Regions from separate parts of the Homo sapiens genome. Here all the other regions are reported to be linked to region 6. Evidence: microRNA targets listed by miRTarBase, many of them from high-throughput screens and not tested one by one. Region 6 holds a microRNA gene; each other region holds the end of a gene's coding sequence.
Evidence for each region. The annotated mature microRNA hsa-miR-6825-5p reads UGGGGAGGUGUGGAGUCAGCAU and lies in region 6 at 1,554-1,575, opposite strand. An mRNA with a match to its seed (bases 2 to 7 or 8) in the 3' UTR can be bound and repressed. Matches are read on the target gene's strand: a 7mer-m8 pairs with bases 2 to 8, a 7mer-A1 pairs with bases 2 to 7 and ends in A, and an 8mer does both.

Region 1: the mRNA of LENG8 is a reported target of hsa-miR-6825-5p. Seed matches in the 3' UTR shown: 7mer-m8 at 2,452-2,458.
Region 2: the mRNA of SLC2A4RG is a reported target of hsa-miR-6825-5p. Seed matches in the 3' UTR shown: 8mer at 1,138-1,145 and 7mer-m8 at 1,257-1,263.
Region 3: miRTarBase lists SLC47A1 as a target of hsa-miR-6825-5p. The part of its 3' UTR that is shown has no 7-base or 8-base seed match.
Region 4: miRTarBase lists LTBP4 as a target of hsa-miR-6825-5p. The part of its 3' UTR that is shown has no 7-base or 8-base seed match.
Region 5: miRTarBase lists REG3A as a target of hsa-miR-6825-5p. Seed matches in the 3' UTR shown: 7mer-m8 at 400-406.
Region 7: the mRNA of MLEC is a reported target of hsa-miR-6825-5p. Seed matches in the 3' UTR shown: 7mer-m8 at 551-557 and 7mer-m8 at 125-131.

The regions. Positions count from the first base shown.
Region 1 is chr19:54,460,007-54,464,362 of GRCh38, reverse strand. LENG8 (leukocyte receptor cluster member 8) reads right to left here. Exons shown (of 16, transcript NM_052925.4): 16 at 2,347-3,597. The coding sequence ends at 3,435. LENG9 (leukocyte receptor cluster member 9) reads left to right here and starts at 585. Exons shown (of 1, transcript NM_001301782.2): 1 at 585-2,631. The coding sequence starts at 837. The coding sequence ends at 2,273.
Region 2 is chr20:63,741,891-63,746,246 of GRCh38, forward strand. It overlaps SLC2A4RG (SLC2A4 regulator), which reads left to right. Exons shown (of 8, transcript NM_020062.4): 4 at 1-166; 5 at 240-340; 6 at 446-725; 7 at 809-900; 8 at 989-2,160. The coding sequence ends at 1,100. It overlaps ZBTB46 (zinc finger and BTB domain containing 46), which reads right to left. Exons shown (of 5, transcript NM_001369741.1): 5 at 1,780-4,356. It overlaps ZBTB46-AS2 (ZBTB46 antisense RNA 2), which reads left to right and starts at 1,935. Exons shown (of 3, transcript NR_186425.1): 1 at 1,935-2,838; 2 at 3,638-3,785; 3 at 3,933-4,061.
Region 3 is chr17:19,576,529-19,580,884 of GRCh38, forward strand. SLC47A1 (solute carrier family 47 member 1) reads left to right here. Exons shown (of 17, transcript NM_018242.3): 17 at 799-2,506. The coding sequence ends at 1,025. It also overlaps the pseudogene SLC47A1P1. Among named protein-coding and RNA genes, the nearest start is that of SNORA59B, 21 kb to the left of the region's middle.
Region 4 is chr19:40,629,294-40,633,491 of GRCh38, reverse strand. LTBP4 (latent transforming growth factor beta binding protein 4) reads right to left here. Exons shown (of 30, transcript NM_001042545.2): 30 at 3,674-4,096. The coding sequence ends at 3,942. Among named protein-coding and RNA genes, the nearest start is that of LTBP4, 30 kb to the right of the region's middle. RefSeq lists an enhancer at 2,002-2,592.
Region 5 is chr2:79,153,375-79,157,483 of GRCh38, reverse strand. It overlaps REG3A (regenerating family member 3 alpha), which reads left to right. Exons shown (of 6, transcript NM_002580.3): 6 at 191-478. The coding sequence ends at 258. Among named protein-coding and RNA genes, the nearest start is that of REG3A, 4.3 kb to the left of the region's middle.
Region 6 is chr3:127,573,752-127,578,107 of GRCh38, forward strand. It overlaps MIR6825 (microRNA 6825), which reads right to left and starts at 1,580; the gene lies at 1,515-1,580. TPRA1 (transmembrane protein adipocyte associated 1) reads right to left here. Exons shown (of 11, transcript NM_001136053.4): 4 at 3,239-3,325; 5 at 3,070-3,142; 6 at 2,866-2,945; 7 at 2,189-2,299; 8 at 1,998-2,058; 9 at 1,652-1,754; 10 at 1,434-1,514; 11 at 1-37. RefSeq lists enhancers at 1,126-1,705, 1,706-2,284 and a silencer at 1,559-1,738.
Region 7 is chr12:120,696,220-120,700,417 of GRCh38, reverse strand. It overlaps MLEC (malectin), which reads right to left. Exons shown (of 5, transcript NM_014730.4): 5 at 1-4,102. The coding sequence ends at 3,873. Among named protein-coding and RNA genes, the nearest start is that of MLEC, 11 kb to the right of the region's middle.

The DNA of each region.
Region 1 (4,356 bases), not on the chromosome of region 6:
AAAGGGATGGGACACAGGTAAATCACCCGGAAAGGGGCGGGGCACCACATGTAAATCACCTTAAAACGGACAGGGCACACATGTAAATCACTTGGGGAGAGGCACACACGTAAATCACCCGGAAAGAGGCAGCACAAAAGTATCACTGGGAAAGGGCCAGGGCACGCATGTAAATCACCCGGAACGGGGCGGGACACATGTAAATCACTTGAGAAGGGGAGAGGCACTCGTAAATCACCCGGAAAGGGGCGGGGCATTACATGTAAATTACCCTGAAAGGAGCGGGGAACATATGTAAATCACTTGGGAAGGGGAGAGGCACACATAAAAAAAAAAAAAAATCACCTAAAAGGGGTGGGGCACTCGTAAATCACCAGGAAAGGGGCGGGGCACCACATGTAAATCACCGGGAACGGGGCGGGGCACTACATGTAAATCACCTAAAGGTCGAGGCACACGTAATCATCCCGAAAGGGGCGGGGCATTACATGTAAATCACCCAGAAAGAGGCAGCACACATCAATCACCGGGAAAGGGGCGGGGCCAGGCTCCCAAGAGCTCCGGGAGACCGAGACTGCCGCAGCCTTTACGCAGCTTGCTTTCCTGGCGCTGGGGGAGGGCGCAGCCGGGAAGTCCCAGAGCAGCGGTGTCAGGCTCTCCACCAAGGAGGGACTGGGCCAGAGTCCTCGCGAGGGCACGCGGCGTGGTCCCCAGAGCTAGGCCGGAGCGCGGGCCGCTGACGCCACTGTCGGGTGAGGCTCGGTGCATCCAAGGGGAGCCGCCCTCCGTGCGGGGCGACCTCGTCTGCGCGGCGGGCGTGCCAGTTCCCCGCACCCATGGCAGCGGCCAGAGAGCCGGAGTTGCCGCAGGAAGCCCCCGCCACGGAACCCGCGCCCCCGCCGGCCTGCCGCTTCTTCCTGGAAGGCCGCTGCCGCTTCGGCGCCCGCTGCCGCCAGCCCCACCCTGGGGCGCCGGCGCCGCCTGGCCGCGAGGCGCAGCCGGAGGCCGGGGCCAAGAAGCCGCCGCTGCGCACAGCCGCGGACGTCATCCAGCGCATCCGCTGGGACCCGCGCCTCGACCCCGCCGACTTCTCGGTGGGCTACGTCGACCGCTTTCTGGGTGTGCGCGAGGAGCCCTTCAGCGCCTTTTGCTGGGACCAGCCGCTGGCGGCGCTCGGGCCGGGCGTGCTGGCAGTGCCCCAGCACCGCGTGCGCTTCTTCCGCTTCCGTGGCCGCCTTGTGTGGGACCGCGCCTCGCGCACCGACCTCGTCTTTGGCTCTGGCTCGGCGGCGGGACGCGGGCCCACCATCCTGGACGCACCGAACACCGAGGGCGCCCACGGGGCAGAGGGTGCCGAGTGGACACTGGCGGGGACAGGTCAGGAGGCCCAGGCTGCCCCCAAGCGAGGGAGCACAAGGCCGCTCTGCACAGGGCACCAGGAACCAGGCGTGGAGGAACCCGGAGAGCTGGAGGCGGCCCAGGAGAGGGCGCTGGGCACAGCTGCTGATTTGGGAACACTGGCCCCAAGAGGACGCCTCGCCGGAGTGACTGAGGCACTGAAGCCAACAGCAGCCACCAGGACCACATTGCTGGGGGGCAAGGAAGCACAGGCCCTGGGAGTCCCGGGGGGCTCCGCTGAGACGACAGAAGCCGAGTGGGGTCCTGCGGCCTGGCCCGAGGACAAAAGGGCCCGCCTTAGTGTTGCAGCCCCTTGCCAACCGCGCCCCACACATTTTGTGGCCCTCATGGTGACCGAGCCTGGGCTACAAGCAGAAGTGACCAAGGCCCAGGAATACCTGGTCCACGTGGCCCCACACTGCGCCAACTTCCTAGTGCCCTCTCAGAACCTACACCTGACCCTGGCCCTGCTGCGACTGGCAGGCGCTGGGGAGGAGGCCGCTGCCATTGGAGCTCTGAGACGGGCCCTCTTGGCCCCGGGGCTAAATGCACCCCCTCGGCTGAGCTTTAGAAAGCTGGTCCTCCTGGGCCCGCATGTGCTGTGTGCCCCACCCTCTCCCACACTGGAAAGCATGGCACAAGTGCTGAGCCAGAGGCTGGAAGCCGAGGGGCTGAGTACACTACAGTCTCCAGGGCAGCTGCACCCCCACCTCACCGTGGCCAAGGTGCCCCATGGTTCCCAGGTCCACCTCCCCAAGCTGGAGTTCACCCTCAGCCAGGAAGTGGGGTGCCAGCCCCTGCAGACACTCTGGCTGTGCCGTATAGGGAGGACAGGGGGGCCTTTCCAGCCCCTGGCTGAGATCCCCCTGGAGTGACACCCCCAGACCTCTGGAGGAGACAATGGATGCAAACAGCCCACACAGGAAAGACAAAGCAGGAGCGTGCACGCTCTCTCTTTCTCTCTTTAATTTTGGTTTCTCTCAAGCTTCCAAATGGTGCTCAGTGCTCCAAGGAAAGGAAGGAAGGAAGGAAAAGGAGGGGAGAGGAGGGGAAGGGGAGGCAGAGGAGGAACATCTGGAAAAAAAGCAGCCTGACAGTCCAGCTGTTTGCAAACTCATAGCACATCCTCCAGTTACATGGCAGAAGAGGGAGGGAGGGAGGGCCAAAAAGAAAAGGGAGAGGAGGAAGAAAAATAACTTAAATAAACACACACACAAAGAAAAGAGAAGGCAACATGACGTGAGCTGGTGATCCATGAAGGCAGGGAGGGAGGGGAACCGTTTTACCTGTGCTGAACCAAGGGAAGAATGCGGAGAGGGAGGGAGGGAAAGGGGAAAAAAAAATCAGAAGAAACACTGGGGGCAGAGGGAGGAGGGGACACGGAGACAACTTTATACAACTTGAGACGAGGCGGCCCGGCCGGCGTGTCCTCAGTGCGGTGTGGCGGCGGAGGATCTGGTGCTGGTGGTGCTGGCACTTCAGGGTGGGGGGCCGAGGACGGGCACAGTCTCTAAGCAGCTCCCCCACCCCAAACACGGAGGCCCCAAGGGGCTGGGAACAAGAGTCTGTGGCGAAGCAGGTGAGGCAGCGGGCGGTGGGCGGGCTTGCTGGGTGCCCCCGCCGCAGGCGGGCACGGGCTGGACGGCCTGTCTTCTTTCCACTGGCCCCCCGGCATGGGATGGGCCAGGGCGCCGGGTCGGGTACCGGAGTGCAAGCTCGAAAGAGAGAGAGAGAAAACACTGAGACAGCATTAGTGGAGTGAAAGGCGGACACAGATGAGCCTGCAGACCATGCCCCCAACCCTCCGCTGCCCATCCCCTCCTCCCCAATCCCATCCCTCTGAGGCAAAAAATAAAAACGTAGAAAAATCTCTGTACAGACTCCCCGGTGGGAAAACGGGGGCAGGGATGGTGGCTCTTCCTGGAGCGCACTCCCCACAAATAAATTTACAACCCAAGTCCACGGCTCAAAAACAGAATCCGCAAAGGCAGCGCTGGGGGCTGCAGCCCCTGCCCCCGCCCCTCCTCGCTGGGTGCTCAGAAGGCTGACAGCTGCGCCAGGCTGAGGCGGCAGTCGATGCTGGAGTTGTCCGGGCCCGTGTAGGCCAGGCCCAGGGGCTCTAGGAAGGCCCGGCAGGCGGCCTCGCCCTCGAAGGCCAGCTCGGCCTGCAGGTAGGAGACTGGCAGCGCAGGGCGGAAGCTATGGAGACAAGAGGAGAAGGTGATGAGGCGGGCGGGCGGGAGGGCAGGGGAGGGCCCCACGAGCGGGGAGGCCCCCCCATTCGGGTGCCCACAGGATTTCCTCAGCACAGTGCCTGCTGGCTCCCCACCCGCCTCCCAGCCTCCCCACCTCAGGGGCTCGGGGGGGGCCCGGGGGGGGTTAGTGACCCCAGTCCCCTGTGCCCCCCTCACCCTCACTTACCTGTGCGGGGGCCAGGGAGGAGCGGGGACGGGCAGGGAAGGGCCCAGCGGGCTCCTCCGCTGGCTGAGGGGCAGGGACCAGATGGAGGGAGCAGCACGTGGCAGGGGATGGGGATGGCGGGGCTGCCAGGGCCACCGTGGGGACCCAGCCCTCGCTGCCTCCCCTGCCCTGCGTTACAGTGTCTGGGAAGCCAGGCGCAGGGGTGCCAGCTAGCACTCACCACTACACACTGAAAGCAGTCACTTCCGGCTGCTGCTAAAACACACTACTGACTGAGCATCTAGCACGAGCCAGGTCCTCAGAGCTCCCTGAACCCTCTTCCACAGGGTGCAGCCCTACCCTTTCCACACACACAGGAACCCAGGCACCGAGTGAGGGGCACTAAGTCCTAGAACCCGCTTCTGCTCCAAAGCCAGAGCTTTCCTGGAAGCCCTGGGATCAGAGCCCACTCCGTCTCCCAGTCTCAGCTGGCAGGGCAGGGTCAGCCTCCTTGGGGGGAAGGTGCTGACACAATGAGGTCAATGACAGACTGGCGCC
Region 2 (4,356 bases), not on the chromosome of region 6:
GGAGGCCCTGGTGCGGCCCCCAGGCAGCTACAGCAGCAGCAGCAACAGTGGAGACTGGGGATGGGACCTGGCCAGTGACCAGTCCTCTCCGTCCACCCCGTCACCCCCACTGCCCCCCGAGGCAGCCCACTTTCTGTTTGGGGAGCCCACCCTGAGAAAAAGGAAGGTGAGCTTGGGGGCGGCCCCCAGGGAGGGGCGGGTGTGGCGGCTGAGCCTGACCCTGGCCCCTGTTGCTGCAGAGCCCGGCCCAGGTCATGTTCCAGTGTCTGTGGAAGAGCTGCGGGAAGGTGCTGAGCACGGCGTCGGCGATGCAGAGACACATCCGCCTGGTGCACCTGGGGTGCGGCGGGGCCTGGGGTGCGGCGGGGCCTGCGGGTTGGCTGGGGTTGTGAGGCCCGGCCAGGCCACCCCTTCAGCTCCCACTGGCTGGCTGTGTCTCCCGCAGGAGGCAGGCAGAGCCTGAGCAGAGTGATGGTGAGGAGGACTTCTACTACACAGAGCTGGATGTTGGTGTGGACACGCTGACCGACGGGCTGTCCAGCCTGACTCCAGTGTCCCCCACGGCCTCCATGCCGCCTGCCTTCCCCCGCCTGGAGCTGCCAGAGCTGCTGGAGCCCCCAGCCCTGCCTAGTCCCCTGCGGCCGCCTGCCCCGCCCCTGCCCCCGCCCCCTGTCCTGAGCACCGTTGCTAACCCCCAGTCCTGTCACAGTGACCGTGTCTACCAGGTGGGTGAGGCCACGGGTGGCAGCTGGGGCGGGTCTCAGGGCTCTCTGGAGGGGAGTGAAGCCCTGGCTGTGTCTCCCTGTAGGGCTGCCTGACGCCCGCCCGCCTGGAGCCGCAGCCCACGGAGGTCGGAGCCTGCCCACCCGCCTTGTCCTCCAGGATCGGAGTCACCCTGAGGTGCGTGTGGGCTGAGGGCCTGCGGCTGGCACCAGGTGGGGAGGGTCCTGGTCTCACAGCACCCCATGTCCTGTGACCCCCCGCACAGGAAGCCCCGCGGCGACGCGAAGAAGTGCCGGAAGGTGTATGGCATGGAGCGCCGGGACCTCTGGTGCACAGCCTGCCGCTGGAAGAAAGCCTGCCAGCGGTTCCTGGACTAAGTCCGGCTCGTTCAAGAACATAAGCTACCACCTTCTCCCTCCCCACCCCCTCCAGGCCCGGGGCTGAAACAGCCCGAGGACAGCCCCAGGGGCTGGCTTTCACCAGCTGCAGGGTCTGCTTTTACTTGGGGTGGGGGGGCGGGGCTGACCCTGAACCCTCCCCCCCGCCAGGTCGGGGAGGGGTCCCACCACTCAAAGTGCCTCTAAAGAAACCAGCTTTTTGCACTAAAGCCAAACCACACCGCTGTCCCCTTAGCCCCAAGGGCCCTGGGGGCAGCCACCCTCCCGCCTGTCGGCCCGTAGATTTATCAAGGGTGTTATGGGCCCAGCTTTGGGGGGCCAGTCCCGATGCACTTTGAGGGGTGTTGGAGAGGGGACTCCCCCACTCGCACTTAACTCAACGGCTCTCGGGCCCTGGGGCTGTTTTTACCATGTTTGTTTTTGAAGCTCAGGTGTCTCACGTCTGGGCTGCACCAGGCGAAGAGAGAAATTAAAGATTTGAGGTTTTTCCAGAAGCTTTGTCTGCCTCTCGGGAGGAAGGCCGTGGGGCTGGGACCCTGTGGTGGGCAAGTGGGTGGAGTCTGGCAGCTGCCCACAGAGGGCCGAGGGTCACCCGTCGGCCGCCGCCACCCCAGGCGAGGCCGGAGGAAGGATCATCTGAGACGCAGGAGGCATCTGCTGGAGCAGCAATTTCCCAATTTATTGAAAGTGATCGCTTTGCAAGGATGTCTAAGCTAATCCCGTCACAGAAAGGAAACGCACAGGCGCCTAGGCAGAAACTTGGAGACTCACCGCAGAGGCCACGTGAACCCACGGCCACAGAGAGGCAGGACGGCAGAGCCATGATTTCCCACCGAGCGATTACGAGAACCTCTTCCCCCAATAGTAGACACATCTCCAATACAAACACAGGTTTATAATAAGTAATAGGAAGTCAATATAATATAGATTATCCCCAGAAAAAAATCAACAATCTTCAAACACTGCCCTTTTTTTGTGTGTTTTGTTTTTGTTGACAGGTTGAAAGCATGTTGAAAAAAATAAATATTTAAGAAAAGCACACACAGCACCCTCACTACAAGTAGTTCTAAAAGGGCTGCATACAAAACACAATATAAGATCTAAAAAAAACCACCACCATTAAGTATGGCTTTCTTAAGAGTCGCACATGTCACAGAATGAGCTAAAATAAGATTACTTCTTTTATAATATTGCAAAAAGTTCCAGTTTTTGCATTTTCTCAGTTTTTTAAAGAGGAAGATGTGCAAAGTTGGAAGCAGTAAGCTGCGTCTTCTGAGTCAGTTCCCTACGTAGCCCTGGCAGTGTCCTGTGTCCCAAAGCTCAGAGAGCCCCAGTGTACAACCTGGTCAGGATCCAGAGCTTGACAGAAAAATCGTGGTGTCCCTGCCCCCTCCCCGCCCCCAAATAACACCATCCCCAATGGACTGTATTTCCCACTTTGGTGTTGTAAACACCAAAATACAAACAGACACAAACAAAAATACAAAATGTGAAATGTAATCTACACATTTTTCCTCTTCATAAAAAAATATTTATTAGTTTGAACATCGATTTAAAAAAAAATCAGTCACATAAAAAAAACCCTTCATGACATGTCTTTTCCCTCCACGCCTCCTGAGATGGACGTGCTCACCTGGGCCTCGGAAATCCCACACTCTTCAGTCGGCAAACTGCGAACAAGAACAGGAAATCTGCCACGCAGCAAACACTTGGGGAGGTCAGTGGGACACTGTTGGTTTTAGGGAAGAAAATGCCCCTGTAGCTCCGGCGGGGAACCCCAAAACGGTCAGCAAAGGCAGGCCACACGGAGTGAGCCGGCCAGATGGAGCAGGACATCCTGAGTGTGGAGGGGGAGGCGGGCCTGGGTCCTGGGCAGGGTGGCCTGAGAGCAGGGACTGGTACAAAACCCAGAGACATTGGTGGGTAGCAAAGGTCTGGTTTCCAAATGCATTTTGTAAGAAAGTCAGTCTGTTTAGAAAAAGGGTTTAAAAATCAGGGGAAAGGTACAAAGTTCTGAGAATTCTCAAAGAGGCCGGGGTGGGGCTGGCCTGGGGTGAGGGCTGGAGGGCTCCGCTGCAGCTCCCTGGTAGCCATGCTCTCCCCCTGGGGGACTCGTGCCAGAGCCACCCACCTTGCTCGGTAAGAGTGGGCAGGGCTCACCGCTGAGGGGCCAGCGCTTGGCCCGGCTCCTATCCCCACACTCCGTGTGCAGAAAAATCTTGGCCTCTTTCTCCAGCTTTGAGGAGCCCACAGCCTCCGAGCTGAGGGGTGTGTGTGATGACAGCTCCAGCCAGGGCACCCTGTCATTGGTAGAACCGGGGGCCAATGTCAAAAAACAAAAGCCGTGACTCCTGCGCTGTACCTGGAGTCCTCCATGTACTCCTCCACAGGACCCCCGGCCAGCCCCAGCCCTCCCCGAGCAGCAGCGGTCAGGGAAGCTGGTGCTCTACCTGACAATGTGGGGAAAAGCCTGGTATACAGGCTAGAAAAAGAGAGTAAAAACTCTTTCCACGCAGCCCTGAAGCTCAGCACTCCGGGGGGTCTTCACACGGGCAGGTCCTGGAGGGAAGGAGGAGGCCACCGCGCCCACCTCCCATCTGAAGGCACAGCACCGCAGTGGTGGCCTGTGCCAGAGGAGGGGGTGAAGGATGGAATGTCCTCATGGTGAGTGCTGTCAGAGGCAGGCCTGAACGAGAAGACAGGCCGTGGCAACGGTCCCGAGGCTGTGAGTCTAGGCAGCCTGCCTCCGGGACCCCCAAAGCCAGGCGGTGCACCACAGCACACACCGTGGGACCTTTGCTTTTCACTCAGGAAAAGAAAGAACATGTGAGTGCTTCTGAAAACACAGCAAGAGGACTTGAGCACAAGCTAAAGGAAAAACAACCCTATATAGTTTCTTCGAGTGAGAAAAATAATGCCAAACAAAATAATTTTATGTAACTACCTCGATATGTCTCTGACTACTTAAAAATTTGGTTACCCACGCGGGGAGGTGTAAGCAGCACACTGCAGTTAGGAACACCGCCTCCAGTGTTAGCAGCAAAGGCAGGAGCCCAGCTCCAGCCCGTCCAGGAGGGGTCAGCAGGAGCGGCCGGGCTGGGCCATGGGCAGAACAGGACGGGCAGAGCCCGGGGTGGACGTGGCAGCCCAAGGCTCTCCGAGGAAGTGCACACGACTGAGCCGAGGCCCTTGCAGAGGGAACCTGGTGTGGCCTGAAGTGGTGGGGGGCACAGGG
Region 3 (4,356 bases), not on the chromosome of region 6:
TAGAGATGAGGTATCACTATGTTGCCCAGGCTGGTCTTGAACTCCTGGGCTCAAGGGATTCTCCCACCTCAGCATCCCAAAGTGTTGGAATTACGGGCGTGAGCCATCGCACCCAGACTTGAATTATTTCTTAGGTTGTTTCTCCTTGTGTTTTGTTCTGAAATGCTTATTAGATGGGTGTTGGCTCCTTGAAAATTTCCCCTGTGAATCCTTTTTTTTTTTTCCCTTGGAGTGGAGTTTTGCTCTTGTTGCCCAGGCTAGAGTGCAATGGCACCATCTTGGCTCACCCAAACCTCTGCCTCCTGGGTTCAAGCGATTCTCCTGCCTCACTGCCTCAGCCTCCTGAGTAGCTGGGATTACAAGCATGTGCCACCATGTCCGGCTAATTTTGTATTTTTAGTAGAGACGGGGTTTCTCCATATTGGTCAGGCTGGTCTCTAACTCCCAACCTCAGGTGATCTGCCTGCCTCAGCCTCCCAAAGTGCTGGGATTACAGGCATGAGCCACCGCGCCCGGCTTCCCTGTGAATTTTAATGGAGAGGGCTACCTTATTTCTCTAGCTCCTGGGAGAGTGCTCCCTGGAGCACCCAAGCCAGCGCTGGTAGGATCATCGGTGTTCGTGAAGGAGTGAGTGGAGGGGCACTCTGCGATAAGATTTCTTTTATTTATTCACTGTAGCAATAGTGTCCTGAATTAACTTTCTCTCCACTATTAGCACATATTCCTTTTATACATAGCCCTTTATAAAAATGAAAAAAAAAATCCCTTTTAAGCTGCTAAGTTCCTTTTTCCTCCCAGGGTGCCCTGAAAACCTTGAAGGAATTTTAACGAACGATGTTGGAAAGACAGGCGAGCCTCAGTCAGATCAGCAGATGCGCCAAGAAGAACCTTTGCCGGAACATCCACAGGACGGCGCTAAATTGTCCAGGAAACAGCTGGTGCTGCGGCGAGGGCTTCTGCTCCTGGGGGTCTTCTTAATCTTGCTGGTGGGGATTTTAGTGAGATTCTATGTCAGAATTCAGTGACGTGGTAGGAAAGAAAGTCAGGTCAAGTGATGCTTTTGAGCTTACACACAATTCACAGGCCCACCAGTGACAATTTACTGTGAGTTAATGTCATTCAGGTGTGCCCATGGATTTTGAGGGCTGGAAATGCAAAGACACATTTTTCTATAAAAAGAAAAAGCAACTAAGGTTAAAAGCTATATTGTGGCCCAAGACACTGTCTGAAAGATGACATGAGTAGTAATTCACCACTATCTGAACCAAGCAAGGATCAATGTGCTGACTGCATTGGCCAATGGCTTTGATACTTCTGCTATTTTTTTAGACACAAACCCATAAACTAACTGCTTAAGAATTCATACTGCTTGAATTATGTAAAATATATTTTACAGTATATCTTTCCTTGGGCCTTAGATTACTATTCACTGGGCAAATGGTATTTGTTTTTGTTTTAATTTTTTTTTTAATAGACGGAAGTCTTGCTCTGTCATGCAGGCTGGAGTGCGGTGGTGCGATCATAGCTCACTGCAGCCTCGAACTCTTGGGCTTCAAGCAATCCTCCTGTGTCAGCCACCAGAGTAGCTGAGACTACAGGGGTATGCCACCATGCCCAGCTGGCATTTGTTAATCTTCATTTGAGGTCTAGATCTAGGCACTGTGGACACTGAAAAACAGTTGGGAAATCTTTCGAGCTGTGGAAATCCAAACAAAGACTGATAATTCCTGGTAGGGGTGTGTGCGTGACGTACTGCAGCCTCAACCTCCTGGGCTCAAGTGATCCTCCCACCTCAGCCTCCTGAGTAGCTGAGACCACAGGCGTGTGCCACCACGCCTAGCTAATTTTTTATACCAGGGTCTACCCTTTGTTTCCCAGGCTGGTCTTGAATTCCTGGGATCAAGCAATCCTTCCACCTTGCCCTCCCAAAGTGTTGGGATTATAGGCATGAGCCACCACGACTGGCCAGAGGACAAAATTTTAATAAAGGTCTTAGCTTAAGCAGTAATCCTACTTCATTAAGCCTTCCTGGGGTGCGGTACACACCGTTAATTCAGCAACCCTCAGTACATACTAAGTATGCTCAGTGCTGTGAAAGTGGATTACACCAAATTAAGTCATTCTTATCACACCCAATCAAAAGTCAAGAAGCCAGGGATAAAAGCACCTCAGGCACATAACATTAATCTAGTAATGTAATTCTCTGCACATCCAGCTGGTGAAACTGCGTGCTGTAAGCTGGGACCAGCTTTGTCCATAACTGCTGAGAGAACTTGCTGAAGCTCTAGGAATAATTTTGCCTGCCCGGTTGCTCACCAGTTGTAGCTTGCCAGCTCCCAACACCCTTCCTGGTGCCAATAAACTTTCTCAAAGAGCAATACTGACATTTCTTTTGATAAAACCTCCAGCCTTCTCTGTGTTGTTCCGACATACCGAGGACCAACTGGTCTACATGGATGCCCTGAACATGCAATTCTTTCTTCCAAAATAAAACATTAAATAGAGATTTTGCCTCTACATTTTTGACTTAGTGCTAGGATGGATATAATGCTCTAGGCATGGCCTTTTCCTGAAATAACAAAATCAGAAAAGTTACCTACTTTGAGTAAAAAACACCCAACTGCTGATTTTGGTTGGGGCCACCTTAAGGTATCTCTACCCTCAGTGCCTTGTTCTTGGGGCCACGAGGCCCATTCTCCAGGAAGGCAGGTAAAGGCTTGCACTGTGGCCCTCGGGGTTGGGCCTGGGGGCAGGGGGCAGACACCACAGAGGCCCCTCCCCAGCTCCTCGTCAGGAACCCTCGAACCCTGTCTCCATTCCCCTCGCACAGGACTCCCTGCCCTTCCCCTTGCCAGGTAGGGCAGGGACCCCCTGGGGATAAGAGGAGGTTCTTTCAACCACCAGCCACAAATAGCCGCGGCCAGGAGGCCACCCCGGGCCGCCAGGAGCAGGGAGGCTGGGGTCCCTGCGAGGCAGGACCCCTCCTCTCCCGGAAACACTGAACCCGCAGCAAGCCCAGGCCAGAAGCATGCCAGAAAGCGCCAGCCCTGTGCTCCGCGGGAGGATGGAATCACCAGCTCAGTCCTGTCTGCCCACCCTCTAGGCATTTTGCTCTTCCAACCTGACCTACAAACTCTCCTGATAAAAACCCGTGTCATCCAAAAGCACACGAGGGGTCCTCTCACGCAGGGACCCCTTCCCCGAGCCCCCTTCATAAGCCCCCAAGGGCCCTCCCGGTGCCCTCCCCCAGAGTTCTGCGGGCGGCGACCATTGCCCTGGGCGTCTGGAGCGGGTCCGGGACGGGGAGGGGCGGGGCTGGGTGGGATCGGGTCGCCCCCCTCACCCCCACACCGCGCTGCGGTCCCGCGCCCGCGCCGCCGCCAGCCGCTCCCAGCCTCCGCATGGAGGCCCCTGCGGCCGCCGACGCCCCGGTCCCCGCCGAGCTCCCCGCCGCCGCCAAGGACCGGCCCCCATAGCGGCTCCGGGCCCTCGGATGGCGTGACGGCTTGTGGGGCCTGCGGGGTGCGCTGCCCCCGGACCTGCGGGGGGAGGCGGCTGAGCTGGCGGCGCTCGCGGGCCCAGTGGTGAGTGCGGCGTCCTCACGCCCAGCCCGACGCCTCCGGAGCGGCCGCCGCGCAGGGGTGGGCGCGGGCTTCCAGGAGGGAGGGCGGCTGTGAACGCGCCTTGCTTTCCGCGCCTCCGCAGTTTCTTGCGCAGTTGATGATCTTTATAATCAGCCTCGTCAGCTCCATCTTCTGTGGACATCTGGGCAAGGTCGAGCCGGACGCTGTCACGCTCGCCGTCACGGTGGGTGCCTGATTTCGCCCCTGTAGGAGCCGACGGGCGGCCAAGGGTTAGGATTTGAGCGGTGTCCCCAGGCGCTGTGGCTCACGACTGTAATCCCAGCGCTTTGGGAGGCCCAGGTGGGAGGATCGCTTGAGCTCAGGAGTTCGAGACCAGCCTGGGCAGCATAGCAAGACCCCCGTCTCTACTAAAAATACAAAAATTATCCCAGCGTGGTGGCACCGCCTATGGTCCCAGCTACTCGGGAGACTGAAGCAGGAGGATCGCTTAAGCCCAGCAGATCGAGGCTGCAGTGAGCTGAGACCGCACCACTGCACCCCGGCCTTGGCAACAGAGCAAGACCCTGTCTCAAAAACAAACACACAGGGCGGGGCGCGGTGGCTAACGCCTGTAATCCCAGCCAGCACTTTGGGAGGCCGAGGTAGGCGGATCACCTGAGGTCAGGAGTTTGAGACCAGCCTGGCCAACATGGGAAAACGCCGTCTCTACTAAAAATACAAAAATTAGCCGGGTGTGGTGGCACGGGCCTGTAATCCCAGCTACTTGGGAGGC
Region 4 (4,198 bases), not on the chromosome of region 6:
AGGCTGGGTTAAAGTTTGTGTTCCTCGAATTCACTTATTGCAAAGCAGGAAAATATTTGTTGAATGAATGACTGAGGAATTAGTGGTTGGGTCGGGTTCCCTGTATCAGCTGGAGGGTAACTTTCTGAAACGCTTTGTAGAGTCGGCGTTTTTAAAGAAGGGCTTTATTGACTTATGATTCACATACCACACAAGTCACCCATGTGTAGTGTATAATTCAATGATTTTTGGTACAGACAGTTTTGTGCAACTGTCACCCCTTTGTGGAGCCTTGAGCCACTCCTTGTCTGACACTCCTCCCCACCAAGGCCTTGTGTTAGGTGTTTCTCACTGTCCTGTTGAAGGGGATGGGGTCTGGCCTCCTCCTCCACCCTGGGAGGGAGAATTGGTAAAGAAAAAGACCTAGCCAGGCCAGGTGCCGTGGGTCATACATGTAATCCCAGCACTTTGGCAGGCCAAAGTGCAGGAGAATCACTTTAGCCCAGGAGTTTGAGATCAGCTTGTGCAACACAGTAAGGTCCCCTCTCTACAAAAAATAAAAATTAAAAAATTAGCTGAGCATGGTGGCACATGCCTGCAGTTCCAGCTAATTGAGAGGCTGAGGTGGGAGGATCACTTGAGCCTGGGAGGTTGAGGCTGCAGTGAGCCATGGTGGCACCACTGCACTCCAACCTGGGCAACAGAGCAAGACCCTATGTCAAAAAAAAAAAAGAAAGAAAGAAAGAAAGAAAAGAAAAGGAAGAAGGAAAGGAAAAGAGAAAAGAACAAGACCTTACTATCTGCCCAGCCACAGGGCTCAGCATATCCTGGGAGGCCCAGGGTTATGCCAACAATGACTGAGCCCTTGCTCTGTACCAGGTGACATTCTAAGCACATATATGACAATTCATTTAACCACCACCACCAATCCTGCAGGGTAGGCGCTCTTAGTATGATTCCCCGATGTAGCACAGGAGGCTGCTGGGCATGTGACCCCTCCTGACACTCAGCGGGTGGGCTGGAGATCAGGTCAGGAAGCAGCCTCCAATCCACAATTTATGCAATTTCAGCAGTGCCTAGAGGATTAAAACTGGAGCCTCATAGGCCAAATAGGCCCCATAGGGTACTATATTAGTCTTTTTCTGTTTGTTTTTGGTTTTTTTGAGACAGAGTCTTGCTCTGTCACCCAGGCTGGAGTGCAGTGGCCCAATCTCAGCTCACTGCAACCTCCGGCTCCTGGGTTCAAGCGATTCTCCTGCCTCAGCCTCCCGAGTAGGTAGTATTACAGGCATCCACCACCATGCTCTGCTAATTTTTGTATTTTTAGTAGAGATGGGGTTTCACCATGTTGGCCAGGCTGCTCTTGAACTCCAGACCTCAGGTGATCCACCTGTTTCAGCCTCCCAAAGTGCTGGGATTGCAGGCATGAGCCACCGTGCCCGGCCCTATTGGTCCATTCTTACTCTGCCATAAAGATACCACCCAAGACTGGGTAATTTATAAAGGAAAGAGGTTTACTTGATTCACAGTTCTGCATGGCTAGGGAGGCCTCAGAAACTTACAATCATGGCAGAAGGCAAAGGGGAAGCAGTCACCTTCTTCACAAGGCGGCAGGAGAGACAGCGAGCCAAGGGAGAAGAGCCCCTTATAAAACCATCAGATCTTGTGAGAACTCACTCACTATCACGATAACAGCATGGGGGAAACTGTCCCCATGATCCAATCACCTCCCACCAGGTCCTTCCCCGGATTACAATTCTGATTACAATTTGAGATGAGATTTGGGTGGGGACACAGCCAAACAATATCAGATAGTTATTAAAAATATACATTAAAAAAAACTTTTTTGGAGACAAGGTATGCCTTTGTCACCCAGGCTGGAATGCAGAGGCACGATCACAGCTCACTGCAGTCTCGACCTCCTGGGCTCAAGCAATCATCCCACCTCAGCCTCCCAAGTAGTTGGGACTACAGGCATGTACCATCGCACCCAGCTACTTTTTTGTAGAGATGGGGTCTCACTATGTTGCCAGGCTGGTCTCAAACTCCCGAGCTCAAGTGATCATCCTGCCTTGGCCTCCCGAAGTGCTGGGATTACAATCGTGAGCCACCCCGCCAGGCCAAAAAAAAGTATTAACAATGGGGAAAATTCCCCTTCCTAGTCTAACCAAGCCTTAGGCAGAAGGTAATGTGTGCCTCAATTTTCCCTGCTTCCTGCTAACATTCCGGTTCTGGTCTTTGCAGCATATGAGTTTGAAACCCTGGGGACACAAGAATTGACAGGTGGGTGAAGAATGACAGGTACAGTTTTGTGGGTTTTTGTTTTTGAGATGCAGTCTGGCTCTGTCGCCAGACTGGAGTGCAGTGGCGTCATCTCGGCTCACTGCAACCTCTGCCTCCTGGGTTTAAGTGATTCTCCTATCTCCGCCTCCTAAATAGCTGGGATTACAGTTGCATGCCACCATGGCGGGCTAATTTTTATATTTTTAGTTGAGACCAGGTTTCACCATGTTGGCCAGGATGGTCTTGATCTCTTGACCTCGTGATCCGCCTGCCTGGGCCTCCCAAAGCGCTGGGATTACATGTGTGAGCCATCGCGCCTGGCTGAGGTACATTTTTTTTTTTTTTCCCAGCTTGGCCCAGTGCCAAGTTGATCACCCACGATTCCCGACCCCTACTCCTGCCCTAAGTTTATGCTGATCTAGGCCGTTCTTGTTTTTTAGGGAGGAGGAGTCTGGACTAGGAACATGGCCAGTAAGCAGGCAGGGCACATGGAGGAGGTCCGTGCTGGGCACTCCACCATCACACACAGAGCTCATTCCCGCCTCCAGCTGTCAGGACTGCCGCTCCATACTCCATCCACAGCCAACTCCTAGCTGGAGCGTCAGGTCTGGGTTTGGCCCTCCAGGGACTCCTGCTCCCTGCTCTTGCCCCACTTGTTCCAGGACAGCTTAAGACTTCTAGGCCAAGCACGGTGGCTCACATCTATAATCTCAGCACTTTGGGAGGCCGAGGTGGGAGGATCACTTGAGCCCAGGAATTTGAGACCAGACTGGGCAACATAGGGAGACCTCATCTCTAAAAAATAAAAGCTGGGTGCGGTGGCTCACACCTGTAATCCCAGCACTTTGGGAGGCCAAGGTGGGTGGATCACCTGAAGCCAGGAGTTTGAGACCAGCCTGGCCAACATGGCGAAACTCCGTCTCTACTAAAAATACAAAAATTAGCCTGGGTTGTAGTGTGCACCTGTAATCCCGGCTCCTTGGGAGGCTAAGGCAGGAGAATCGCTTGAAACCGGGAGGCAGAGGTTGCAGTGGATGGAGATGGCGCCAGTGCACTCCAGCCTGGGTGACAGAGTGAGACTCCATCTCAAAAAAAAAAAAAAAAAAAAAAAAAAAATCCAGAGGCAAGATTGCTCTCGAGATGAAAGAACCAAACAAAGAGAAGGGAAAAGAGAAAGACGCATGCAGAAACAGAAATGAAAAGACAGGATGTAGAGGTTAGGCAGAGAAAACAAATCAGAAAGAGACAGAGATGAGATAGAACGACAGAGACAGAGAGAGAAGGAAGACAGAGACCAAGAGAGGCAGAGAGACAGACGAAACTAGGGGTCAGAAGGGAAGGGAATGTCATTTAGTGACTCAAAGCACAAACTGGGGTAGACTTGGAGAAATAGACAGGAGGAGGCAAAAGATAGAAAATAGGTGGTTTTTAATGGAAAATTTTATAAAAGGGAGAGGGCATGTAAAGGGGCCCCTGGGCCAGGCCCGGGACCACGACATCAGTGGGAGGCGCTGGTGGAGGCGGGAGCAGTGCAGGGCGTCGCAGCTTCCAGGCGTCCGTAGGTCCCTTCTCCAGGTCCAGGCGGGCGGCCCCGTGCACATACGCATAAGCGGGCTGCAGGATGCGCGGCAGGGGCCCCGAGTGGCGGGCGCGGGTGGGCGGCCAGCGGGTGCCAGGGCTCAGGCCCGGGGCCGTGCGGGCGCACAGTGGTGCGGCTGGTGCGTGGGTGCGAATCCCGGGCGGCAGATGCAGCGGAAGGAGCCATCCGTGTTGAGGCAACGCGCGTTGACGCACAGCGGGGAGGCAGCCTCGGCCTCATCACACTCGTTGATGTCTGCGGAGGGGAGACAACGATCGCTGCTGAAGGCTGGGGCCCCAGAAGCTCGCCTCCTTGGCCCCTTAAGTTCTTGGAACAGAGGAGCACAGATGCTGAGCA
Region 5 (4,109 bases), not on the chromosome of region 6:
GAAAATACAATGTTAGTGTGTCTTCTCTTATCTCCTCTCTTCTCCACTTTCTTTGAATCTCTCTCCTGGATTGGGACACTGGTGAAGGTGAGGGAGAGGCTTTAACTTCTAGGCTAAAACCTGGGATGCCCCTTCATTGGATTCACAAGCTTCCTCAGCCCCATTCCATTTATGTCTTCTGTCTCTCCAGCATTTCTGAGGTGGAAAGATTATAACTGTAATGTGAGGTTACCCTATGTCTGCAAGTTCACTGACTAGTGCAGGAGGGAAGTCAGCAGCCTGTGTTTGGTGTGCAACTCATCATGGGCATGAGACCAGTGTGAGGACTCACCCTGGAAGAGAATATTCGCTTAATTCCCCCAACCTGACCACCTCATTCTTATCTTTCTTCTGTTTCTTCCTCCCCGCTGTCATTTCAGTCTCTTCATTTTGTCATACGGCCTAAGGCTTTAAAGAGCAATAAAATTTTTAGTCTGCACTTGTTTGTCTTGTATATGCCAGTGTCATAGCCATACTCTGAGAAGGACAAAGTGTTTGAGTGGAGGAAACTTTATGGGTCTTGCTTCTTCCCTATTCACCCAGGCCTCTAGGGAAAATGATGAAGTGTGCATCCCTACCAGTGTGTTATGATGAGGGTGTGGGTCCTGCTCATGTAGGATTTGTGTTGTGGAGAGATGAGGACATTTCTCTCCCGCGTACTTACTGCCCTCCCATTCCCGTAGCCCAAACCTGACAGTGTGACATGAACAGATTTAGGAGGCTCTGATGGTGCTTAGAATAGTACTTCTCAGAGAATGGCATCAGCAGGATGGTAGATAGGACTTTCCAGCTCTTGAACCTTCACAGAAACATTCATTTGAACTACTACCCATTAAAATGGAAATACCTTCACAAGAGCTAACAATCCCAAGTGAGTGATTAAAGCATCTGAATGTTGCAAAAAATAAGAAAGGATGCATCGAAGAGGGTAGAAAGAAGACTTTTACATTATTTATATCACCCCTCCATCAATCTCAGTAAGCACAGCATGGAGAGACATTCCCTAAACTTGGGGAAAGAGAGTGAAATAAGCACTTGAGTTTTCCATGGACCCTAACACTAGGTTTGCCTCAGTAAGACCCAGTGGCCTCTGACTCCAGGCAGACACCCTTGGACTTAGACTCCAGGCTGCCTTGATGCCAGGCCAGGCTCTGTGGCCCCAGGCTCTGTGACCCCAGGCTCCAGGTCAGCCCCCATGACTGCAGCCTCCAGTCTTGCCCCAGAAGATGCAGGCTCTAGACACACACAGCATCATGCTTTTCCCCATAGCTCCAGACCACAGGCCAGCACCCACTGACAAAGACTCTAAGCCCACCTCAAGGACAAGCTAGCACTTGCAGCCACAGACTCCAGGGTGACCCCTGAAATCCTAGACATCAGGCCTGCCCATGTGGACCTGCCCTTCAGACCCACCACAGCTCCAGGATAGCTCCCACAGCTACAACTTCAGGCCAGCACTTGCAGACCCCAGCTCCAGACTGACACTCACAGTCGCAGGATACGGTCCTGTCAAATCCCAAACCCTCCCCAAGCCTTTAGGTCCATCTGAGCACAAAGCCCTGATGCTAGGCCAGCCTCTGTGGCCTCTGTCACTAGGCCAGCCCCCACAGACACAAGTTCTGGATTTTCCCAGTTCCAGGCGAGGCTCTGTGGACTCGGTACTAGTCTGGCCTCATACTCCAGCAGACCCAGGATCAAGCTTCATTACAGTAGACCTTAGCACCAGGCCAGCCCCCCCGACTCAGGCTCCAGCCTTAGCCCCATGAATCCAGTCTCCAGACTTACCCCAGAGGCAAGTTGACATTCATGGTCCCAGGCTACAGGCCACCCCCACTAACCCTGGCTCCATACCAGCCCCTGTAGTTTCAGGTACCAGCCCAGTATGCACAGACTCAAACTCCAGACCTGTCCTAGAGACTCAGATACTACATCTGTCCTAGTGCCTGGCTAACCCCTGAAGACATGGGTTCAAGGCCTGCTTTAGAGCCAGATTGGTCTCCAGGAAGTAGGATTTAGTCTGGCTCCTGTGATTAGAGGCTTCGGGCCTGCCCTCATGAAGTGACTGCCTACCCTGGTATACCAAGTCAATAGGTCCACTTGAGGATGCCAGCAGCAAGCCTGCCCAAAGACCAAGCCAGATGGCCTGCCCAGAATCTCTGGATGACTGACTGGTGAAGGGCTTTGTCTGCTAAAGCCAGTCTGTAAAAACTGGAATAAGTGACTACTTGTTCAAAAAGTCAAACACCAAAGACACATGACCACAAGTATCATAAACAATCAAGGAAATATGATATTACCAACAGAACAAAATAAAGGACTAGTAACTGACCTTAAGGGGAAAGAATTTTACAAACTGCTCAACAAATAATTTAAAGCAATTGTCTAAAAGAAACTCAGTGAGCTACAAGAGAATACAGATAGACAACTAAATGAAATCAGAAAAACAATATGTGAACAAAATCAGAAGGTCAAGAAAGAGATTTGTTTTAAAGTTAAAAAAAAACACATAGTGGCTGAACTGAAGAAATGCATGGAGAATTTCAACAGCAGACTTGATCAAGCAGCAGAAAAAGTCAGTGAGTTTGAGACAAGTCATTTGAAATTATCCAGTCAGAGAAACAAAAAGAAAAAAGAAACAAAAAGAGAAAATAAAGCTTAAGGAAACTATGGTACATGATCAACTGAGCCAATATATATATTATGGGTTTTCTAGAAGGAGCAGAGGCAGAAAATGGGCAGAAAACATATATAAAAAATAATGGGTCATGGGGTTTGGCATCCCCATGCCTGTCAGTGCCTCACCCCAGCCAACGAGCATGCACCCAGCCATGCTGCCACTGCCGTGGCATGAGCACAGATCCCACTGCTATCACCCTGACAGAGTACTGTGGTCACTGCCACTTACTGGAGTGTTGTGGCCAGCAATCCAGGAACACCTTTGGACCCCCAGCACAGCAGGTTCCTAACTTCGAGGGGTGAGAGAACAAAGCTAGGGGCCTGATAATAGCATTCCAGAATTGGGGAATGCTGAGCTGAACCTTGGCCCACTGACATCTTCCAGAAATGAAGTGAGTCAACTGAGCCCACCTTATACCACAATCAAACCCCCAAGGGCATCAAAAAGGATAAACACACACACACACACACACACACACACACACACACAATCCATCCAAAAAACAGCAACTTCAAAGATTAAAGGAACGCCAGCCCACACAGATGAGAAAGAACCAGTGCAAGAACTCTGGCAACTCCAAAAGCCAGCGTCTATTTTTACCTCCAAACAATTACACTAGTTATCCAGCAATGGTTCCTAACCAGTCTGAAATATCTGAAATGACAGAAATAGATCTTGGAATATGGATAGGAACCAAGATTATTGAGCTTCAGGCAAAAGTGAAAATCCATTTCCAGGATTCTATACAATAAAACGATACAGAAAATGAAAGATGAAATGGTCATTTTAAGAAAGAACCAAACTGATCTGATAGAGGTGAAAAACTCATTTCAAAAATTTCAGAATACAATCACAAGTATTAACAGCAGAATTGATCAAGCTGAGGAAAGAATCTCAGATCTCAAAGACAGTTCTCTGAAATAACTTAGACACATATTAGAAATTAAAAAAAGATTGAAGAAAATTAAACAAAACCTCTGAAAATTATGGTATTATGTAAAGAGACCAAATTTATGACTCATTGAAAGCAAGCAATTTGGAAAACATATTTCAAAATATCATCCATGAAAACTTCCCCAACCTCCTTGGAGAGGGCAAACTTTAAATTCAGGAAATGCAGAGAACCCCTGTGAGACTACACAAGATAACCATCCCCAAGCCACACAGTCATCAGACTCTCCAAGGCTGAAATGAAAGAAAAAAATGTTAAAGGTAGCTAGAGAGAAGGGGTAGATCACTTACAAAGGGAACCTCATCAGGCTAACAGCAGTGTTGTCAGCAGAAATCCTACAAGCCAGAAGAGATTGGGGCCCTATATTCAGCATTCTTAAGGCAAAGAAATCCTAAACAAGAATTTCATATCCAGGAAAACTAAGCTTCATAAGCTAAGGAG
Region 6 (4,356 bases):
TTGGCATTTGTAGGAGAAGAGGATCTTGGGCTCCGAGCTGATAAAAGGAAAAGAGGGGCATGGAAGCCTCACTGAGTGATTCAGGAAGAGCCTTCCTCTCCAGGCTGATGGGGCCACCAGATAAGGAAGGAATTGACCAACAGTCGCCTGACACCCACTCTGAGTGGGCCTGTGAGCTGGACCCCAGAGCCCATCTAGACTTGTTTTGGAACCCAGCCCTCCTCCCCCTGGCTGTGTGAGCTCAGGCGGGGGGCATCTGTGCCTGCTTCCTCATGGTGAAATGGGTGTGTGGACACCGTGTGGAGGAAGAATGGACATAAATCATGAGGCTTCAACAGTGCCTGCCCAAGCACTCAGGAGACATTGGCTGTGGCCTCCGCCCCCACTCCTGTGACCCCTGCTGCTCATGTTACCACCCACTCCACTCTGACCTCGTCCCTCGGCCCTCAGGGCAACTCTCCAAGGGGGACACACTACACCCAATTTACAAAAAGGAGCCTGAGGCTCAGGGGAGAAATTGTGTGCAAAGATCCAAGCTGGGGCCATGGACCAGTCTGGCCCTCTCCCAGCTTCACCCAGGTGGGAGGCTGATCCCCTCCCCACAAGACCTGGCAGGTGAGAAAGGGGGGACAAAACACCCACATTCCGACCACATTAAGGTCTGGAGTGGGACCCCCAATCCCATGTCTTCAGCATCCCATCTCACAGACGCTTCTGCAGATGCACATGTGCACAGCAGTGTACTCACCCCCAGAGAATCCAACTGACTTCCCACCCCAAACCTGCTCCCCACTTAAGTCTTCCCCCAACAGGGTACAAGCTTTGTGAGGACAGGATTTGCATCCGCTGTGGGCCTCGCATCTTCTGGCTCTAGCAGTGTCTGGCACACAGTAGGTGCTCAATGAATGCTTGCGAATGAATGAGTTAATATATTATTAAATAAAAACCAGCAATGTAGAACACCGTGCATAGTCACTCTCTCTCTCGTGGGGAGAGTATGTCTGTGTGTACTGTACATACAATGTGCATATATATGTATGTATATGTGGATATGTGCATATATCTACATGTATGTATATGTTGAGCACGTGTTCATGTGTGTATGCATGCATGTGGGTGTGCACGTGCATGTTTGTGTGCATATGCCCGTGTGTATCCGTATGTGCGTGTTTGTGTGTGCATGTGCATGTGTGCATGCTTGTGCATCCGTGTGTGCATGTGCACGTGTCCATGCACATGTGGGTGGGTGTGCGTATATCTGTGTGCATGTGCATGTGTATCTGTATGTGTGTGCCCAAGTGCATGTATGTATGTGCGTGCGCATGCGCACTGTATGCATACACAGCCTCTCAGCTTCAATCCTCACACCCATGCTGGAAGAAGGCGCAGTTCCGCCGGCAGCCACGCGGGGGCGCCGGCGGCCACAGACTCACCCGAAGAAGCCCCGGAGGAAAGCCACGTAGATGAGCGGAGCGAAGAAGCTGAAGTACAGGAAGGTTGTGGCATCTACACAGCTGCGGAGAAGGCGGGTCAGCGCGGGGCCTCCTAGCCCCATGCTGACTCCACACCTCCCCATGCCCCCAGCGGGTGGACACCCTGCCGCCCACTTCCCATGCCCCCACGAGGCAGACACCCTGCGGCCCCCACGCACCAGAGCCCCTCGATGATGTCGAAGCACAGCAGCACACTCCCCAGCCCCTGCAGTAGGTTGAGCAGTGCCAGGATGCCCGCATACACGTAGAAGCTCCTCCGAGCTGGGGGCCGGACAGGGTGGGTCGTGAGGTCCCACCCTGGACAGGCCAGGCTCTGCCTCCAGCACCTACTACCCTCAAGCCTGGTGTGTCCCCCGGGGCCCCTCTAGGCCTCCCTCTCACCCAGGGCTCTCCAGCTCCCAGCCTGGAACTCTACAGCTCCAGCTCCCAGCTACCAGCTCTACAGTGGCCCGGTAGACTCCCTCCCATCCCCGCCTGTCCCAGAGCCGCCGGCCAGCTGCTCACAAGGCAGGGAGATGCGCTCCTTCAGCGGGGTCTTGGGAAGGATGACCACCAGAGAGTAGACCTACAGAGACAGGCAGGGCTGAGAAGGTGCTGGGGGCGCCAGCCCAGACCCACAGCCAGAAACCCAGGAATCCAATCCCTACCTGGCCCTAAGGCCCCAGCCACCCCAGCTGCCCCAGCCTGAACCTCACCAGGAAGAAGAAGCAGGAGCTGACCAGCCAGAACTGGCGGCCCCCATGGCCATAGATATTAAAGTCCTCAGCTGAGAGATGGGCATCAGGGTACAGGATCTCCAGGGTCCCCTGCAGGGGCAAGCAGGAAGGGAGGAAGGGAGAGGATCTCAAGGCTTCTCTCTCCCAGGGGCTTTCCCTGATGCAAAGCCCCCTAAGCTCTCCACCACACCAAGTTCAGCCTCTTGGCCTGACCCTCAACTCACCTGCCCCAGTCTGCTCCCTGGCCATGTCCTGCCCAACTGATTGCAGCATCCAGAGCCGGCCCAGTCTTGGGCTGAGTCACATGGGGAAGGGGGCAGAGATGGACAAGGTGCAGTCCCTGCCCCCAATCTAAGAAAGGGGCCTCTAGATGCATGCTTCTCAGGGGGGTCTGCGGACCTGCACCATCCCTACCTGAACTCCTTATTAAAACGGCAAGTCCTGAGCCTCCCATCCTGGCGCCCTGGCCCACTGGATCCAAATCTCCAGGGGACCCCAGAATGTGCCTCGGTAACAAGCACCCCATGTGATTTCTCAGGTGCAAAGTTTTGAGAACTCTGAAGGTGATAAAGACTGGAAACCTGACCCAGACCCAGAAGCAGTGGGTGCCTGGTGCCCTGACTCCTAGCGTCCCCTGCCCACACTCACCCTCTTACCTGGGTGACAGAGTAGGCCAGGGACAGCACTGTGGTGATGGCCAGCACCCGCTTGATGCTGGACTTACTCTCCAGGTGGCCTGGAAGAAACATGCTGGTCAGCAGGCAGGAGCCAGCCCAGGTGACCACTCCAGAGTCAGCCCACAGCCAGGGAGGGGCAGGGGAGAGCATCGCCAGGGCCCAAGAGCCCAGCGGTACACACACCAAAGGCCAGGCCCAGGATGATCACACTCAGCTCGATGGCCAGCAGGAAGAAGCGGGTGATCTCCCACAGGATCTGCACGCAGAGTGGGCACAGCGTCAGCCTGGACCAGCATCCCCAGCCCACCCCAGGCCAGGCCTCCCTGGCCTCCCTCAGAGGGCCCAGCCGCACCTTATCAGCAACAGTTGCAGCGTTCGAGGTGCTCACCGTCATGGATACCACGGCCCGGGCAATGCCCACCAGCGCCACCACAAACACCTGGTGGGCAAGGGAGTGGTGTGGCAGTCAGGGAACAAGAGCCTCTGCATCGGCAGGGGCAGCAAGCCCACCCCCATATCTACAGGAGCCTTTGATTCCTGAGGTCGGAAAGGAGGAAGGCGCAAAGTCAGGGTGGGACACAGGGAGGTGGGGATCACTCCAGGAAGCAAGGCTCACAGAGTTGCAGACCCTCAACTGCAGGTGACTTCCAGCCTGGCCCTCCCTCTCGGGGCCCCAGCTTCCTGGCTAGCACCAACAGCCTTGGGCTGGTGAGCAGGAGTGCGCATGGTGGAGCCAGATGGGCCAGGTTCACATCACAAGCAGCACGCTGCTGCTTCCTGGCTCTGTACCTTAGCTTTCTCATCTATAAAATGGGGGCAGAAACAAAACCTACTGTGTTTGATTGTTGGGTCAAATGGATTAACAGATGCAGCAGAAGCCTGCCTGGCACCCAGGAAGGGCCAAGTATACATTTGCTGTTATTACCGTATTCATGGTTTTAATTCTGAGGCATGCGGGACCAGGCAAAAGGTCACCGAGAAGAGGTGCAGAGACCTCTAGGGAAGCCACCAGCCCAGCAGGTTTCACAAAGTGCCTGCTCAGCATCTGTGGTGCTTATCGGCCTGGTATATCCATCCCCTTCCTCTCCCTTCTCACCCCCACTTCGGTGGTTCCAGGTGAGGCTGAGTCCACCGCTCCTGGCTTCAGGGATGGGCCTGGGACGCAGCACTGGCCAGTGGTGTGTGCCATTCCCCTGGCCTCAGGGCTAGTTCAGGGAAGGGCATAGGCCCCAAGGGAGCCTTGTGAGAGAGACCCAGGATGTCAGGTGGGGCTGCTGGGAAAGGCAGACGGACAGCATGCAAGCCTGGCACCATGGACACCACCCTGCTGCCACAAGGGCAGATGGCGAGAGAGCAGGGCCATCGGGGAGATCCCAGGCTGAGTGGGAGATGGAGATGGTGCCCCAGCAGCACTGCTGTGCCCCCAAATCCTGCTGTGCCTGAGGCCCAGGAACTGCCCAGTTTCTCAGT
Region 7 (4,198 bases), not on the chromosome of region 6:
CTCACCTACTCTCCTAGGTCCTTCTGGAGGGGCATGGAGGACAATATTCCATGTTGCCATTTGATGCCACTAAGGATCCCCAAGGCAAGAAGACACTTGAATTATGCCAGAGTAGGCCAGCAAAGGGGAGGGAAGGGACAGGGAAGCAGCCCCATGGCAGGGACTATAGGACCCCTGCCCAAACCTGAATCTAGAGGGAATGCCCCACCCTGGCTCAGAGCAGGAGAGGAAAAGGCACTGTGCTGACCGGGGTGGGTCCTTCCCCAACCCCTAGGGAGGGCAGAGAACCTGCTGATTCTTTCCCTGGGTTTCCCAAGGTGAGCCAATTTCTAGGGAAAGGGATTTTAGCACTAGGAAAAGGAAAATACTGCTGCTGTTTTCTGAAGTTCTCAGCTGAGATTTTAGAAACCATATCCAGGCCTTTCCAGGAGAGGCTAGAGGCAGGAGAAGAAGGAAGAGAAATTCCTTAAAACAGAAGCTTCTCCCAAGAGATAAGGAAGTCAAAACCACAGTTCTAAAGCTGGACCAAACAGTTCCCAGGCACAGAAAGGGGGAGGTAAACCTAACTCAAACTGTGCCCTCTCATCAAAGCCTAAATGCCCGCTAACGTGATCCCAGTAGCTCTTAGGCAGGGAGGGCAAGAGAACACGAACACGCTCTCAAACCAACAGGTGGCCCTGTGGGCAGGGCTAGTCTTCCTGGGAGTCTAACGCCATTGACACCTGAAGAAAACTATCTTCCCAGTCATGAGAACTCGGGGTGTCGATTGAGCAGCCTCTCCTCAACAATGGAGATTTTTCAGAAAAGTGAGTCTGGTTTAAGGGACACAAATCCCACAGAGTTTCTTGGCACAATGTTTCAGTAAGCATGAGTGAGACCCAAAAACGTCCAATGAGAGACCAACAGGCCCCTGACCTAAGTCAGAGCTAGACTGCAGAACTCTCAGCCCAGCTCTGCAGCAGACATCTGCGTCATCCTCCCAGAAATTCAACTCAGGCCACACTTCTGGCAAAAGAAGTTTCACCCTGACTGTCCTTGTTTTCAGTCAGCTGGGCTCAGTGGGATCTAAAAACCTGGGACAGAGTGTAGATCCAGTAGAGGAGCCCAGGCCTCTCCTCCACGCACCCCTCACTGGCACCCCTCACCATCTCCCATACATTCCCTATGGTGCAGCCTCTCAGTCCTAGCACTAAGCTCAAAATACAGATAAGAGAACAAACAGTGCAAAAAGCAAAAGGTGAACAACAGAGTAATTCTTGACACATACAATACAAAAATAAAAATAAAGAATCCCACCCCTTTAACCTAAACTTCATGTACCTATATCTTGGAGGAGCCACAAAACAAAAACAAAAACAAAAAAACTTTCAAGTTCAGCATCATGAGCCAGCTGTGACCAGCCCCAGGGAGCTCTTGTTAGCTGGATAGGCTTGGCTCCAGGGGAGTCTACCCCAGCCCCCACCATACTTCTTCCTGTTTCCTCACTTCCCCTTTAGTTTTTGTTAGCCATAGAAAGATGTTCCTTCCTTTCGTTCACAACCAGAGAGGAAAGCGCCCATCCCTAACCCTGAGCTCAGGGGAAAAGGGTGGGCTTGGAAACAGAGGCAGAAGCAAAGCTGCTTGGCTTACAGTACCATTAGGAAATGGCCCCAGGAGTCAGGGTTTCCTTCTGAGACTCTGAGTCACTGAAGGGATGTGTTGAGGTGGAAGGCGGGACCCCCTCCTTCCTCAGACAGACCCAGGCAAACTAACAAACAAGGCAAAATGGAGGCAGCCAGTCCTCCTCCTTCATCTTGACTAACCCAATGGCAGTGGCCCAGGGCTTTGGGGAATTTCGATGGGATAGGAACCAAAGCTACTGCCAGAAGCCTGTTTAGTTAGGATGTCCACTGCCCCAGGCAGGTGGTCCCCAGGACCAAGGCTACAGTACCTTATCCTTTAGAAGCAGGGGAGCTGTGTGAAGCACTATGGGAAGTATACCTCTGACTGCAGCCTCGGGCCACAACCCTCCAGCTGCCTGACTCAATACCCTAGCACTGAGACCCAAGTCACAGCGAAAACAACAGGCTACAATTCTCAAACGACTAAATGCTGGCCTGGAGTAATCATTAAAGAGCCAAAACCCAGGACATGAGCCCAAGAGCTACCTATTTTGTCACATAAGGAGCAGTTCAAATATACAGAGCTCTTAAAAAACATATCTAATAAAGCAAACTCAAAATTAAACACATTCTAGAAAAGCGGGCCTGGCCTGAGATCCTATATTGACTGCTCCAGCCCAAGCTGAAGCTAATCCTGCTGTCTCCCATCCACAAAATTCCTTCTAGCTTGGCTGGGTCCTCCTTCATTGTTGCCCTAACTGGGAAATGGATGACAATGGCCAGAAAGGAGGGGACCAGGGAAGCTTCATTTCCTATAGAAATTTTTTCAGGGAATTCAAGATCGACACTTAGATGCTAAGGTTAGCTTCAGAGCTGCCAAGGCTCTGGCTGACTGGAATTCTTTCAGTCCCATCACACCAAGAACCTGACTGCTACTTGGATAGAGAAATGAAAGGACAGGGGAAGGAGGGGCATACTATTAAGATCAATAAGAAGCATCGCTGGGCCTATATAGCTAATTAGTCTAGTTCCTTGAAGTAGCTCTAGGCATAAACCAAAACTGGCTGAACTGTGACACACAAGAACATGGGAATAAATGAACATCAGATACCAGACACTCTAAACAGTGGTCAGTCACTTAGTAGGGCTCAAATCTCTGAGGTTGCTCTTAAGCTATGCTAACATAAGCCTTTTCTAATCCAAAGACCAGAAGAGACTTTTAAGGTCAAGTGTTCTGTTGCTGCAGGCTGGAAAGCATCCCTGCCCCCTGGCAGCAAGGCCCTACAAAGGGGCCAGTAAAGAACTGCTGGGTCAGGTCCTCCTGGCTGCTGGCTCAGAGATCCAGGGAGGGAGGTACCAACAAGGTGAGGTGGTAAAGGAGAAGACATTCAAGCAGAGAACCCCAAATCCCCGTGTCTCCTTCCCTTCTTGGCTATAACTTAGTGGGATGGTTGAGAGGGAGAAGAAATTTCAAATGAGCCAGATTAAGGAAACAAACAAACAAACAAAACTGAGAAGAAATCAAGTCCCCAACAGGCACTGAAATCAAAATGATTTGTTGTGGTAACAAGTCAGAGGCGATCTGAGGACCCGACATAACCGAAACGTCTTGGATGCTGGACAGTCTATAACTGGCACATGCCAGGGAGACAAGCAATGACAAAGCTCAAACACTAAAGGTGGGACCATCACTGGATTAATCCAGAAAGGCTTCCAGATAAGGAAGCATTTTCTTTCTTTTTTTTTAATCTCCCTACTTTTTTTTTTAAGTCTTTACCGCACAAATTCTACCCCTTCACACACATTCTTTCAATCCCAGGACGTCTGAAGTCTTATCTAGACATAACTTCAGACCGTACCTAACTCCCAGTGCTGGTCGTCTCAGGTAATAAGATGGCATTTCCCTGCTGTTAATTTCTAACCTAAAAAAAGGAACAGTGACTCCTCTGAGTTCAGAGTCCTTTCCACTAGGTATACAAATGAGGATCCTTGAGCAGGAAGGATCCAGTTTACCCTAAGTATCCTCAAGAGGAAAGAGAAGGCTGGGAGCCAGCCACAAAGAGAGGACGAGGACTGAAGCACGTCTGGGACCAGGTGGTGAATGAGGGCTGCTCTCTACTCGCTCTGCCTCTTTTTGTCTCCTTTAATTGATGTGTGTTTTTTTCTCTTTGTTTTTGTTCATTAATCATTGTGAAAAATACAGAAACCAAAACCAATATGGCTGGTTTCTTTCCCACACCCCTCCACCCTGTTCAGGATAGTCATTTGTTCTCACAACCGGCAGAGGCAGAAGAGGGTTGGAATGAAGACTCCGAAGGCCACCAGGATGGGAAACATGAGGCTGCTGTTGTCCGAGGCATAGGGGTTGGGTGTGCGGGGGCCTGACTGCACCCGGTTCTTATTGGTCTGTTTTTTGAGATTAGACCCTTCATCATATTCTTCTTCTTCTTCTTCCTCTTCTTTCTTCTCCAATCCCGGATGAGGCTGAAGCTTTGGTACATCTAACACAAGGAAGAAAACACTGTTAAGACCCACAGCATTTAAGTAAGAGAGACCCTTAAAAGCAGCAAATAAGCCACAATAAAGAGATTGCTGTG